Linked DNA regions of Homo sapiens. The protein of the gene in region 1 interacts with the protein of each later gene in a pairwise test. Each region holds a gene or a part of one and is shown in the gene's direction. Other genes may lie near its edges. The genes, in order: SLC38A1, SLC13A4 and AMIGO1.

The links.
Region 2: the proteins of SLC38A1 (region 1) and SLC13A4 interact in binary tests that used the Homo sapiens proteins (3 or more experiments, as listed by UniProt).
Region 3: the proteins of SLC38A1 (region 1) and AMIGO1 interact in binary tests that used the Homo sapiens proteins (3 or more experiments, as listed by UniProt).

What each region holds. Positions count from the first base shown.
Region 1 is NC_000012.12:46,185,403-46,189,152, reverse strand, and holds part of SLC38A1 (sodium-coupled neutral amino acid symporter 1), read left to right. Parts: intron 1-81; coding exon 82-183; 3' UTR 184-3,750. UniProt on the Homo sapiens protein: Symporter that cotransports short-chain neutral amino acids and sodium ions from the extraccellular to the intracellular side of the cell membrane. The transport is elctrogenic, pH dependent and driven by the Na(+) electrochemical gradient.
Region 2 is NC_000007.14:135,686,514-135,690,263, reverse strand, and holds part of SLC13A4 (solute carrier family 13 member 4), read left to right. Parts: intron 1-1,235; exon of another isoform or gene 1,236-1,360; intron 1,361-2,941; exon of another isoform or gene 2,942-3,253; intron 3,254-3,750. UniProt on the Homo sapiens protein: Sodium:sulfate symporter that mediates sulfate reabsorption in the high endothelial venules (HEV).
Region 3 is NC_000001.11:109,507,545-109,511,294, reverse strand, and holds the start of AMIGO1 (amphoterin-induced protein 1 precursor), read left to right. Parts: upstream 1-1,567; 5' UTR 1,568-1,875; intron 1,876-2,295; 5' UTR 2,296-2,382; coding exon 2,383-3,750. UniProt on the Homo sapiens protein: Promotes growth and fasciculation of neurites from cultured hippocampal neurons. May be involved in fasciculation as well as myelination of developing neural axons. May have a role in regeneration as well as neural plasticity in the adult nervous system.

The sequences.
Region 1 (3,750 bases):
ACTGTTCTATTTTTTTTCCCCAGGTACATGTGGAAAAATTTTGCTGCACTGAAAATAACCCTTGCCTTTCTCTTGCTCCAGGCTGCCCTTTTCTTGGGCCTGGGGGTGTTGTTCTCCTTGGTCAGCATTCCCTTGGTCATCTATGACTGGGCCTGCTCATCGAGTAGTGACGAAGGCCACTGAAACCCGCCGAGAAAAAGAAACATCCCTGTTGTCTGCTCAGTCAAGTCCCCACACATCAGCAATCTCTCACCACTTCTTTTGCAAGTTTACAGAAGCAAACAGAAATGTACAGGATACTTAAAATGGAATAACTTTTTGGTTGCAAAACAGAGACATGGTTCTATAATGCTTCATGTCCCTCCAAGATTTGAGATCAATTTAGGGATTGTGAAATTTTTTTTTCAAATTTCATACAATCATATTTCCCAGTACTTTTCACAATCATTTTTTACCCATCTAACTCTATGTTTTGTGGCTTCCCGGTCTCTTAGAACTTTGAAAACATGATATACAATAATGTTTATTTATTATACATCCAGATTCTGAAATAATTTTCCTACTGATGTTCAGCTCACACTATCTGTACCTTTTTAGAAGAGAAAAGAATCTTGAATTGTATATATTTATTTTGCTTTACAGAAAAAAATGGTTTCGTAAATAATTTGCCTATTTTGGTTAACATAGCACATGGAGATAATCATCTGAAAGTTATAGGGCACTGCCACTGCTGAATCAGAGCATGCCCAATATTTGAGGTGGCTCTGATTTCCTGGCAGCTGAACTCGGGTAGTCCAGTGGCCTAGCTGGTACCACATCTATTCCCATCCAGAGACATTCTCTGGCAAGTGTTCTCAGCTGAAAAGTGGTTGGGGATGATTCTTACCTTGGTAATTAAATGAAGCTACACATTTGGGTAATCTAGCAAATGAAGTATTTTTTCCCTCTTGGCAACTTGTGTCAGAGTTACTCTGGTCTGAGTCAACTTTCGCTGGGGAAAACCTATGGAACCTACTGCAAAAAGATTGTCCAAAATGCCTAAGAAAATACTCCTCTGATGCATTTAGCCTTCAACCCTACCTGTCTTGCTGAAGGGAGAAAAATGTTTTAGTACATTATAGGCCCAGCAGCTTTTATTCATGTCCACCAGCTAGTTGCACAGAGAATCATGTGTACCTAACTAAGGATGATCTAGGATAAGTAACTCCTGTTTTATATTGAGTATTTTAGGGAAGTCTTTAAAAGACTTGTTTTATATCTATAAATCTAGGTTATTACAAATACAAGAATTTTGTACCTTAAATAAGCCTCATTTCTATTTCTTCTTCATTAATTCTCCATCTAGTCTTGTGAAAAAAAAAAAAAAAAAACCCTCAGAGATAGTCTTTGTGAAGAGCTTCTGACAGAATCACTGAGTACCTTCCTTCCCCCAGATGAGGAAGACAAGGGGGTCTCAGTGTCTGTGCTGTCTCCTCTTCTCTTCCCCAACCAAGGACTGTGCCATTACTGCCCGTCTCAACTGTCCATGCAGGAGGACAGAGTTGCCTGGTACTCTTACCCTTGTCCCTCTCCTAAAGGGAGCACAAGGAAACTGAAGAGACTGAAAAAGAAGAGAGTTTGTAGCTGAAAAAGAATAGGGATAGCAAGGAAACCCAGAACTGCATTCCCCTAAGTGGGGCCATCCCATGTGATTGAATTGTCCATAGCTTGCCTATGGTGAGAAATGTGCATGCTCCGTGAGCTGGTCTCTTGAAACAGGACTTATGCTTCCTCTATATTCTGGTTAAATTTTCCAAACACATAAGTTCACTGAGCACAGATTTCTTATCCAGAGACAAGTAGAATCTAACCGCAGACTGTTGGCAGAGTTTCCAGGCACTTAGCCATGTTCCCTTCCTGACTCAAATCCCCAAAGGCCTTCACTCTCACTGAGAATCACACTACTGTCCCATAGATAAGGCAGGCATTGAAGCACCTGTCGTGATCCTCTAGGGGGGAGAATGAAAGGTTATTTCCTGCATTGCATCATCATAGCTTTTAATATAATGCTACAGAATCATATCCACATTAGGTTAGAGTTCAGATATTTGGATATGAATACCTAACCTAGCCATATCCATGGCCATCTCTGTTCTTTTCAGCAATGTTTTCCATATTATATTAGCAATGACAGAAACAGAACAAGCCAAGATCCAGTCAGTTCTTGGGAGCTTGTCTAGAGCACCAAGTAATGAAATAGCCAGGTAGTGGGATGACTGTACCTTTAAAAATACATAATTTAGTTTGCAAGCTATATTATGCTACTTTCTATTTTCCTTGTTACTTTATAGCAATTCATTTTACCCTCACAAAGTCAATTTAGAACCTTATCATTAACTGGGATGTGTAGTGATATTTTTGGGCCTCTGGGTTTCATGTGTCAATACAAGGAATATTTATTTAAAATAGATTTATTTAGAGGAGGCACAGTGTTGTTGATCTGTGTGACACCACCCATATTTTTAAAAACCTTTGTATGTTTCTCTAAATTTGTTGTTGACTGAATATAATAGACCCTACCATAATTCGTCAAATATCACTGATTAGTTACATCCTTTGTGTGAGATTAGCTGTAAAGTATACTGCTCTTATTCTTATTCAGAATAGTTAATTGGTAGCCAAAAATACATGTATCACAGATGTTAGGTCGAATTTAAACAGCACAGTCAAGTGCTATGGAAGTTTTTCTGCTAAATTAGTAGATTAAAGAATACTATACCCTAGGCATGGGGAGCAGCACGTTTTCCTTTGGTAGGTAGGATCTCTATACTAGTGAACAGTGCCAGTTCCACACTTTGGACTTAGAACTGTTCTCTAGTTATTGTAACACAGAATACTGTCAATCCCTAATTTACTTAATGTTACTTATTGGAAGTGGGGCTGATGAAATACGCACAGGAGGGAAATCTACTGTGTTTAGGCACAGGCAGCCCCAGTGTATAAGGAGATCATATTCCAAAAGGTTGTCAGTTGGTTGTTTGCAACCTGGAATGTATTTTCCTTTAGAGACCAGGTTATCCATGGTGGTTAGGCCCCTAGAGCAGCTGGAAAAGATGATCAAACCAATAGGTTAGCTGACATCGAATAATGTAATAGGTTTGCTAAAGAATCTAACCATCAAATATAATATTGTTTCCAGGGAGGGTGTTTGTTCAGAGTTGCCTGTTAGTAGAATCTGGACTGTCCATCCCAGCCACATCCCACCTACTGGACAGTAGGGGTAGAGATGCCACCAGACTACAGGTGACCAGATTGGCCTGAAACATGGTGTCCAGTAAAAACGGGGAGGAATAAGTCCATGACTGCTGGAGAGCTTGGTGGTAGGAGGAGGGTGAAGGAGGGTGAGGGGGCCTCTCATGGGTCAGAAACCTCCAGGGACATCCCTCAGCTGGTAACTCTGCTGTTGTCCGGAGGGTTCAGGCTTGGTGTGCCTTCTTCTGTTTGTCTGACTTTTGGCTCCTATGGTTCATCTCCTGCCCTGCCCACCACAGAAAAGGATGCTGCTGCATAGCTTCTCCAATGTACCAGTCATTGAGGCCAGCGCGCAGCACTTTTAATGTTTTTAGTGCTAGTAACTGTGTTTTAACTCTCCAGGAATAAGCTGGGAGGTTAGAAAACAAGAAAAAAGGGGGAAAAAAAAACCTCTCCACCCACTTTCCTTTTTTACAGTTACAGACCCTGTTGAGAAAAAGAAGCACCCAGATGGGTGAT
Region 2 (3,750 bases), on another chromosome or scaffold:
ACTATTTCTCCCTCCATCTCATCTACATGCATTATCCCATGCTAAACTTGGTTCTCTTTTTTTTTTTTTTTTTTTTTTTTTTTGAGACAGAGTCTCACTCTGTCACCTAGGCTGGAGTGCAGTGGCGCCATCTCTGCTCACTGCAACCCCTGCCTCCCAGGTTCAAGCAATTCTCATGCCTCAGCCTCCCAAATAGCTGGGATCACAAGCACACGCCACCACACCCAGCTTAATTTTTGTATTTTTAGTAGAGATGGAGTTTCACCATGTTGGCCAGGCTGGTCTTGAACTCCTGGCCTCAAGTGATCCACCCACCTTGGCCTCCCAAAGTACTGGGATTACAGGCATGAGCCACTGTGCCCGGCTTGGTTCACTTTTCATGGCCCAAAATACTATCTGCATTATTAATAATAAGGTCACAGAATACTCCACTAAGGAGAACCTTAGAAAACAATGAGTCCTATCTCCTGCCCATGGTGAGATTCCCCTCCATGGCACTTCTGGCTTGGACACTTCCAGTGACAAGGTACTCCCTGGGCAGGGAACAAAGAATAATTGTTCCTTATTTTCAGCTCAGGTCTTCTGCATGTTGTCTGTCCACTGTTGGCTCTAGCTCTGTTCTCTGGGACCCTCTCCTAGATAATAATTATTAACATGAAAAAATCAAGTAGTAGTGACCCATACCATCTGGTCTCTCTCCTCAGGACTCACTACACTTGGCCTTATTCAAACATAGTCTATGGGGTGGTCAGTCTACTGCCAAGTAGAGTAGTTATATTACCCAAGCCCCATCTCTCACCTCTGATTCAAGCAGCACCCTGCATTTTTATGGAAGCTTTTATAAAGCATCCTTGGCACTCATGTCAACAATTATATTAAAACTGCAGTCAATTAGAACCCTTCATTCTTTTTAACTGTTCATCATTACTGGACCTTCACCCCATCCTATATATATGCCATCAATATTTCTCATTCCAAGTTCGGGATATTTATATTTATCTTTATTGAATTTCAGTTGTTAGTTTTGGCCTCTGACAAGATTGGCCTGGCAAGATTTTATTTTTTTTTTTAACCAAAATTGGGCTGGGCACAGTGGCTCATGTCTGTAATCCCAGCACTTTGGGAGGCCATGGCGGGAGGATTGCTTGAGTCCAGGAGTTTGAGACTAGCCTGGGCAACATAGTAAGATCCTATCTCTACAAAAACAAAAGTTAGCCCAGTGTGGTGGTGCGTACCTGTAGTCCCAGCTACTCAGGAGGTTGAAGTGAGAGGATCGCTTGAGCCCAGGAGTTCAAAGCTGCAGTGAGCCAAGATCCCACCATTGCACTCCAGCCTGGGAGACAGAGGGAGACCCTATCCCCTGCCACCAAAACAAAAAACAAGAACAAAAACAAAAAAAAAACAATAAAAACAAAATTGTGCACATATTAGAGATAGTACAGTTATTTCTGTAAAGCCTACTGCCTCTACTAATTTTAATAATAATTTAGGTAGCATATATGTGATTCCTACAGAGTTTGAAATAATTTCAGTTTTGACATTAGTGAAGAAAATCCATTGTAAAATGTTTTCATACCAAGAGTTTAAAGAATTAAGACTTCCTTTGATTGTGTTTTTGTCTAACTTTGAAGTCTAATTTATTTCAAATCATAGTATAAAATAGTTCTGCTGGAAAAATAATTGCCAATAAATTATTTCACTTTACTAGGCCGGGCATGGTGACTCACGCCTGTAATCCCAGCACTTAAGGAGGGTGAGGCAGGAGGATCACTTGAGGCCAGGAGTTTGAGGCTAGCCTGGCCAACATGGTGAAACGTTGTCTCTACTAAAAATACAAAAATTAGTTAGGCGTGGTGGCGGACACTTTTAATCCCAGCTACTTGGGAGGCTGAGGCAGGAGAATCACTTGAACCCAGGAGGAGGAGGTTGCAGTGAGCCGAGATCGTGCCACTGCATTCCAGCCTGGGTGACAAAAGCAAAACTCCAGGGACTGGGCACAGTGGATCATGCCTGTAATCCCAGCACTTGGGGAGGCCAAGGTGGGTGGATCACCTGAGATCAGGAGTTTGAGACCAGCCTGGCCAACATGGTGAAACCTCGTCTCTACTAAAAATACAAAAATTAGCCGGGTGTGGTGGCACGCGCCTGTAATCCCAGCTACTTGGGAGGCTGAGGCCAGAGAATTGCTTGAACCTGGGAGGCAGAGGTTGTGGTGAGCCGAGATCGCACCACTGCACTCCAGCCTGGGCGACAGAGTGAGACTTCCTCTCAAAAAAAAAAAAAAATTTAGCCGGGGATGGTGGCACATGCCTGTAATCCCAGCTACCCAAGAGGCTGAGGCATGAGAATCATTTGGACCCGGGAGGCAGAGGTTGCAGTGAGCTGAGATGGTGCCACTGCACTCCAGCTTGGGTGACAGAGCACAACTCTGTCTCAAAAAGAAAAAAAAAATTATTTCACTTTACTTACCAGTACTATTTGGATAACGTTAAGTAAAACTCCATCTCTTTATATAATGTACCATTTCCATTCAACTAACTGCTGTTCCTCCCCTGCCTCTGTCCAATGAGCAAGGTTTAATGTGTTACCAGAGGGAACAATTAAAGAGTTCCTGGAGGCCTTGGGGCTCTGAAACAAGCATTAATTGATGCAGTCTGCACATATTGGGTTTGTAAGCTCTCAGTGAGTTGAGAGGAAAAAAAGGAAGAAAAGTTCTACAAGGTGAAGTGGCTACAACAGAGAGAATTCTGAAGGCCTTTGGTCCTCAGTTGTCTATGAGCTTGCCAGGAGGTGGCCAGGGTACTGTAGAGATGAAATGAGCTTTTGATGAATTTGGAAGAGAGGAGAAAAAGTAACATGCTGGCAGTGTAGGGAAGGCGGTATTTAATAGTAAAACATGTGTAGCAGGACTTAAGAGCTTGAGGAATCATAAATGTCTCACCTTCCTTTCTGTCCCTGCTCTCCATATTGTCATTGCATTCGCAGTTTCTAGGGTACCATGGGAAAAGGCAGAGCCTGTCACCATAGAAGAGAGAGAGGAAGGGAGGCAGGATGCATATGGCAACCTGGAGTTTTTAATACAAAACTCAATGATACCTTTCATTTTTTAGGAGAGGGAGGTAGCCCTCCCTATTTGCAGGTGAACATCTTCCAACCAAATGAATCATTCCAAGTGGGAATATTTATTCATTTATTTTTTATTTTTTTGAGACAGAGTCTCACTCTGTCACCCAGGCTGGAGTGCAATGGCACAATCTCGGTTCACTGCAACCTCTGCCTCCCGGGTTCAAGCAATTCTCCTGCCTCTGCCTCCTGAATAGCTGGGATTACAGGCGCGTGCCACCACACCTAGCTAATTTTTGTATTTTTAGTAAAGGTGGGCTTTCACCACATTGGCCAGGCTGGTCTCAAACTCCTGACTTCAAGTGACCTACCTTCCTCAGCCTCCTAAAGTGCTGGTATTACAGGTGTGAGCTACCTCACCCAGCCAGAATGTTCATTTATTTAAGTGGATGTGTGTAACTGTTGCTAGTGGAATAAATTCAGGACGGTCAATATGCCTTCATATCTGTGTCTTCAAAAAGCACTGGCAGGCCAGGTGCGGTGGCTCACACCTATAATCCCAGCACTTTGGGAGACCAACGTGGGAGAATCGCTTAAGCCCAGGTCTGTTTGAGACAGGCCTGGGCAACATGGAAAGACTCTGTCTCTACAAATAAAAAGAGCAGGGCGTGATGGTATGTGCCTGTG
Region 3 (3,750 bases), on another chromosome or scaffold:
TTTCTTTCTTTCTTTCTTTCTTTCTTTCTTTCTTTCTTTTTTTTTTTTTTTTTTGAGACAGGATCTTGCTCTGTCACCCAGGCTGGAATGCAGTGACACAAACATGGCTCACTGCAGCCTTGACCTCCAGGGCTCAAGTGATCCTCCGACCTCAGCCTCTCAAGTAGTGGGCACCACAGGTGCGTGCCACCATGCCTTTTTTTTTTTTAAGAGACAGAGTCTCACCATGTTGCCCAGGCTGCTCTCGAACTCCTGGGTTCAAGCAATCCTCCTGCCGCAGCCTCCCAAAGTGCTGGGATTACAGGTGTGAGCCACTGCACCTTGCAGAAAGACCTTTTCACACTATGCATAAGATTAACACGCTAATACTCCTTGAAGAGATAATATATTCACTAAAATTCATGGTAAAACATGTGACAGATATAAATTCTTTTTAAAACTCTTAGCAAGCTAATCTACTGAGACATTAATTTCAGTCTTGATCTTGCTGTTATAAGAGACTGGAACAAATAAAAAGGTAATTTCTTATGGTCCACCATCTCAAGAACAGCTAACATCTTGAATGATAAGGTCTAGGCTCTTCCTGCATCTCTCTCTTTCCTCACCCCCAAACCCAAACAACATACACTAGTAACAGCTTCTTGTTGTTTCAGGGGCCACCCTAAAGAAGAAACCCCTCCACCTCCACCACTGGCCTTCATCTTGAGGATTAGGTAACAGAGAAACTATGTTGCAATTGCTCCATAAGGGGAGTGGGGAGCTGGCACTGGTTTAGGAAGAAGGCAAGTGGCCAGACCTAAGGGCTGAATGACTTCCTCCGGGCTGGGAAGGGTTTCGGAGTTTCCAGGAATGGAAATTGTCCCTGGCTTGTATGCAGTCCGTGTGTGTGTGTGTGTGTGTGTGTGTGTGTGTGTGTGTGTGTGTAGCAGGTGGAGTGGGGAGAGGTGCATGAGGTGTCTGTAAAGGGGTGTTCTGGGGCCTGGGCTCACCAAACACCCCCTTTCCCCTCACTCCTGCGCAGCTGGCTTGCAGGCTAAGGAGCTGTGCCCTTCAGTGGTACCTCAAGGGTCATGAACTAGTAGCATCAAGACGGGGGTGGGGTGGGGGGAACCCCTCCCCCAATTTTTGAGACCCCACAGCCACAGAGAGAAGGGAGGGGGAACCTCAGAATGTGACTAATGAATTTCCCGCCAACATTGGCAGGCGGGAGCTGAGCCAGATTTCTTCAATTTGCGAAATTAAAAGACATGTGACGCCTCTTGCCCGAGTAGGTGCAGCGAATTCACTTTAGTTAGACTTTTCCTGAGAGCCGGTCTGTGTAGCGAGAAGGGTGCTGGGAGATGGGGGAATGGGGGATGGAGGAAGTTATAGCGGAGCCTAAGGGGCCAGTGCCGCTCTTCCTGCCAATTTTCGTCTTTAGCTCAGCGTCCGGAGCTCGCTGGTTGAGGGAACGACCCCGCGCGCGTCCGCCCGGCCGGCTCCGACACAAACACACGCACGTGCGCCCCGCCCCCGCCGCGCGCACGCGCCCCGAGGCTCCGGCGGCGGCGACGGGCGCGCGCGCGGTGCTCGCTGCCCCCACGCCGCTCCCTCCGCTGGGATCGCTGCGCCTCCGGCTCCCCGCACCGATCCGCGCCAGGCCTGCGGACCTGGAGGCAGCGACCGCGGTCGGTGGGCTCCGGCGGGCTCAGCGGTCGAGGCGGTGGCAGGGTGAGCGGAGCGGGGCCCCGCAAGTCCCCGGGAGGCGACGGTGCCGGGCGCGGGCCCCTGCGTAAGGTGGGCGCAGTGACAGGCCGGCCGGTGAGGCGCCGCCGGGAGAGGCCGCGACGGAGCTCCCAGACCGGCCATGGGCTGAGACACGTCCTCGCCGAGCAGGTGCAGTGACCGGAGGCCCCGGGGGGAGCCCGCCCCTACAGGCCCCGGGGACCCTCAACCCCGACCGGACGCGTCCTACCCAGCCCGGTGCCCTGTTGACCTTCCCTCAGCTCCTCCCAAAAGGCACACCGACCCCACCTCCAAACCCTGCCCGTGCCATCCCTGTGACTCCCAGCAGTCCCTGCCATCCTGTGCATACCTGCAGCCTGCACCCCTGTGACCCCAGCCCAGTAGGCCCTCGGGCCACCTCCTCTTCGGCCGATATTTACAGCCCACTGCCTGCACAGTGCCTGGAAACTACCCAGCATCTCTCTCTCCTAGCCCAAAGGGGGTGGAGGTAAGGGTGGGAGGGGAAGTGGGAGAGGGTGTCCTTCCCTCTGGAGTCCTTGGTGACCACAAACCCATCCTCTTTCTCTCAAGTGACCCTTCCGTACCCCACCAGAACATGCCCGGGTGACCTCCTCCCAGATCTTCCTTGTGGCCTTCCTCGCCCACTCCAGTGACACTATGCACCCCCACCGTGACCCGAGAGGCCTCTGGCTCCTGCTGCCGTCCTTGTCCCTGCTGCTTTTTGAGGTGGCCAGAGCTGGCCGAGCCGTGGTTAGCTGTCCTGCCGCCTGCTTGTGCGCCAGCAACATCCTCAGCTGCTCCAAGCAGCAGCTGCCCAATGTGCCCCATTCCTTGCCCAGTTACACAGCACTACTGGACCTCAGTCACAACAACCTGAGCCGCCTGCGGGCCGAGTGGACCCCCACGCGCCTGACCCAACTGCACTCCCTGCTGCTGAGCCACAACCACCTGAACTTCATCTCCTCTGAGGCCTTTTCCCCGGTACCCAACCTGCGCTACCTGGACCTCTCCTCCAACCAGCTGCGTACACTGGATGAGTTCCTGTTCAGTGACCTGCAAGTACTGGAGGTGCTGCTGCTCTACAATAACCACATCATGGCGGTGGACCGGTGCGCCTTCGATGACATGGCCCAGCTGCAGAAACTCTACTTGAGCCAGAACCAGATCTCTCGCTTCCCTCTGGAACTGGTCAAGGAAGGAGCCAAGCTACCCAAACTAACGCTCCTGGATCTCTCTTCTAACAAGCTGAAGAACTTGCCATTGCCTGACCTGCAGAAGCTGCCGGCCTGGATCAAGAATGGGCTGTACCTACATAACAACCCCCTGAACTGCGACTGTGAGCTCTACCAGCTGTTTTCACACTGGCAGTATCGGCAGCTGAGCTCCGTGATGGACTTTCAAGAGGATCTGTACTGCATGAACTCCAAGAAGCTGCACAATGTCTTCAACCTGAGTTTCCTCAACTGTGGCGAGTACAAGGAGCGTGCCTGGGAGGCCCACCTGGGTGACACCTTGATCATCAAGTGTGACACCAAGCAGCAAGGGATGACCAAGGTGTGGGTGACACCAAGTAATGAACGGGTGCTAGATGAGGTGACCAATGGCACAGTGAGTGTGTCTAAGGATGGCAGTCTTCTTTTCCAGCAGGTGCAGGTCGAGGACGGTGGTGTGTATACCTGCTATGCCATGGGAGAGACTTTCAATGAGACACTGTCTGTGGAATTGAAAGTGCACAATTTCACCTTGCACGGACACCATGACACCCTCAACACAGCCTATACCACCCTAGTGGGCTGTATCCTTAGTGTGGTCCTGGTCCTCATATACCTATACCTCACCCCTTGCCGCTGCTGGTGCCGGGGTGTAGAGAAGCCTTCCAGCCATCAAGGAGACAGCCTCAGCTCTTCCATGCTTAGTACCACACCCAACCATGATCCTATGGCTGGTGGGGACAAAGATGATGGTTTTGACCGGCGGGTGGCTTTCCTGGAACCTGCTGGACCTGGGCAGGGTCAAAACGGCAAG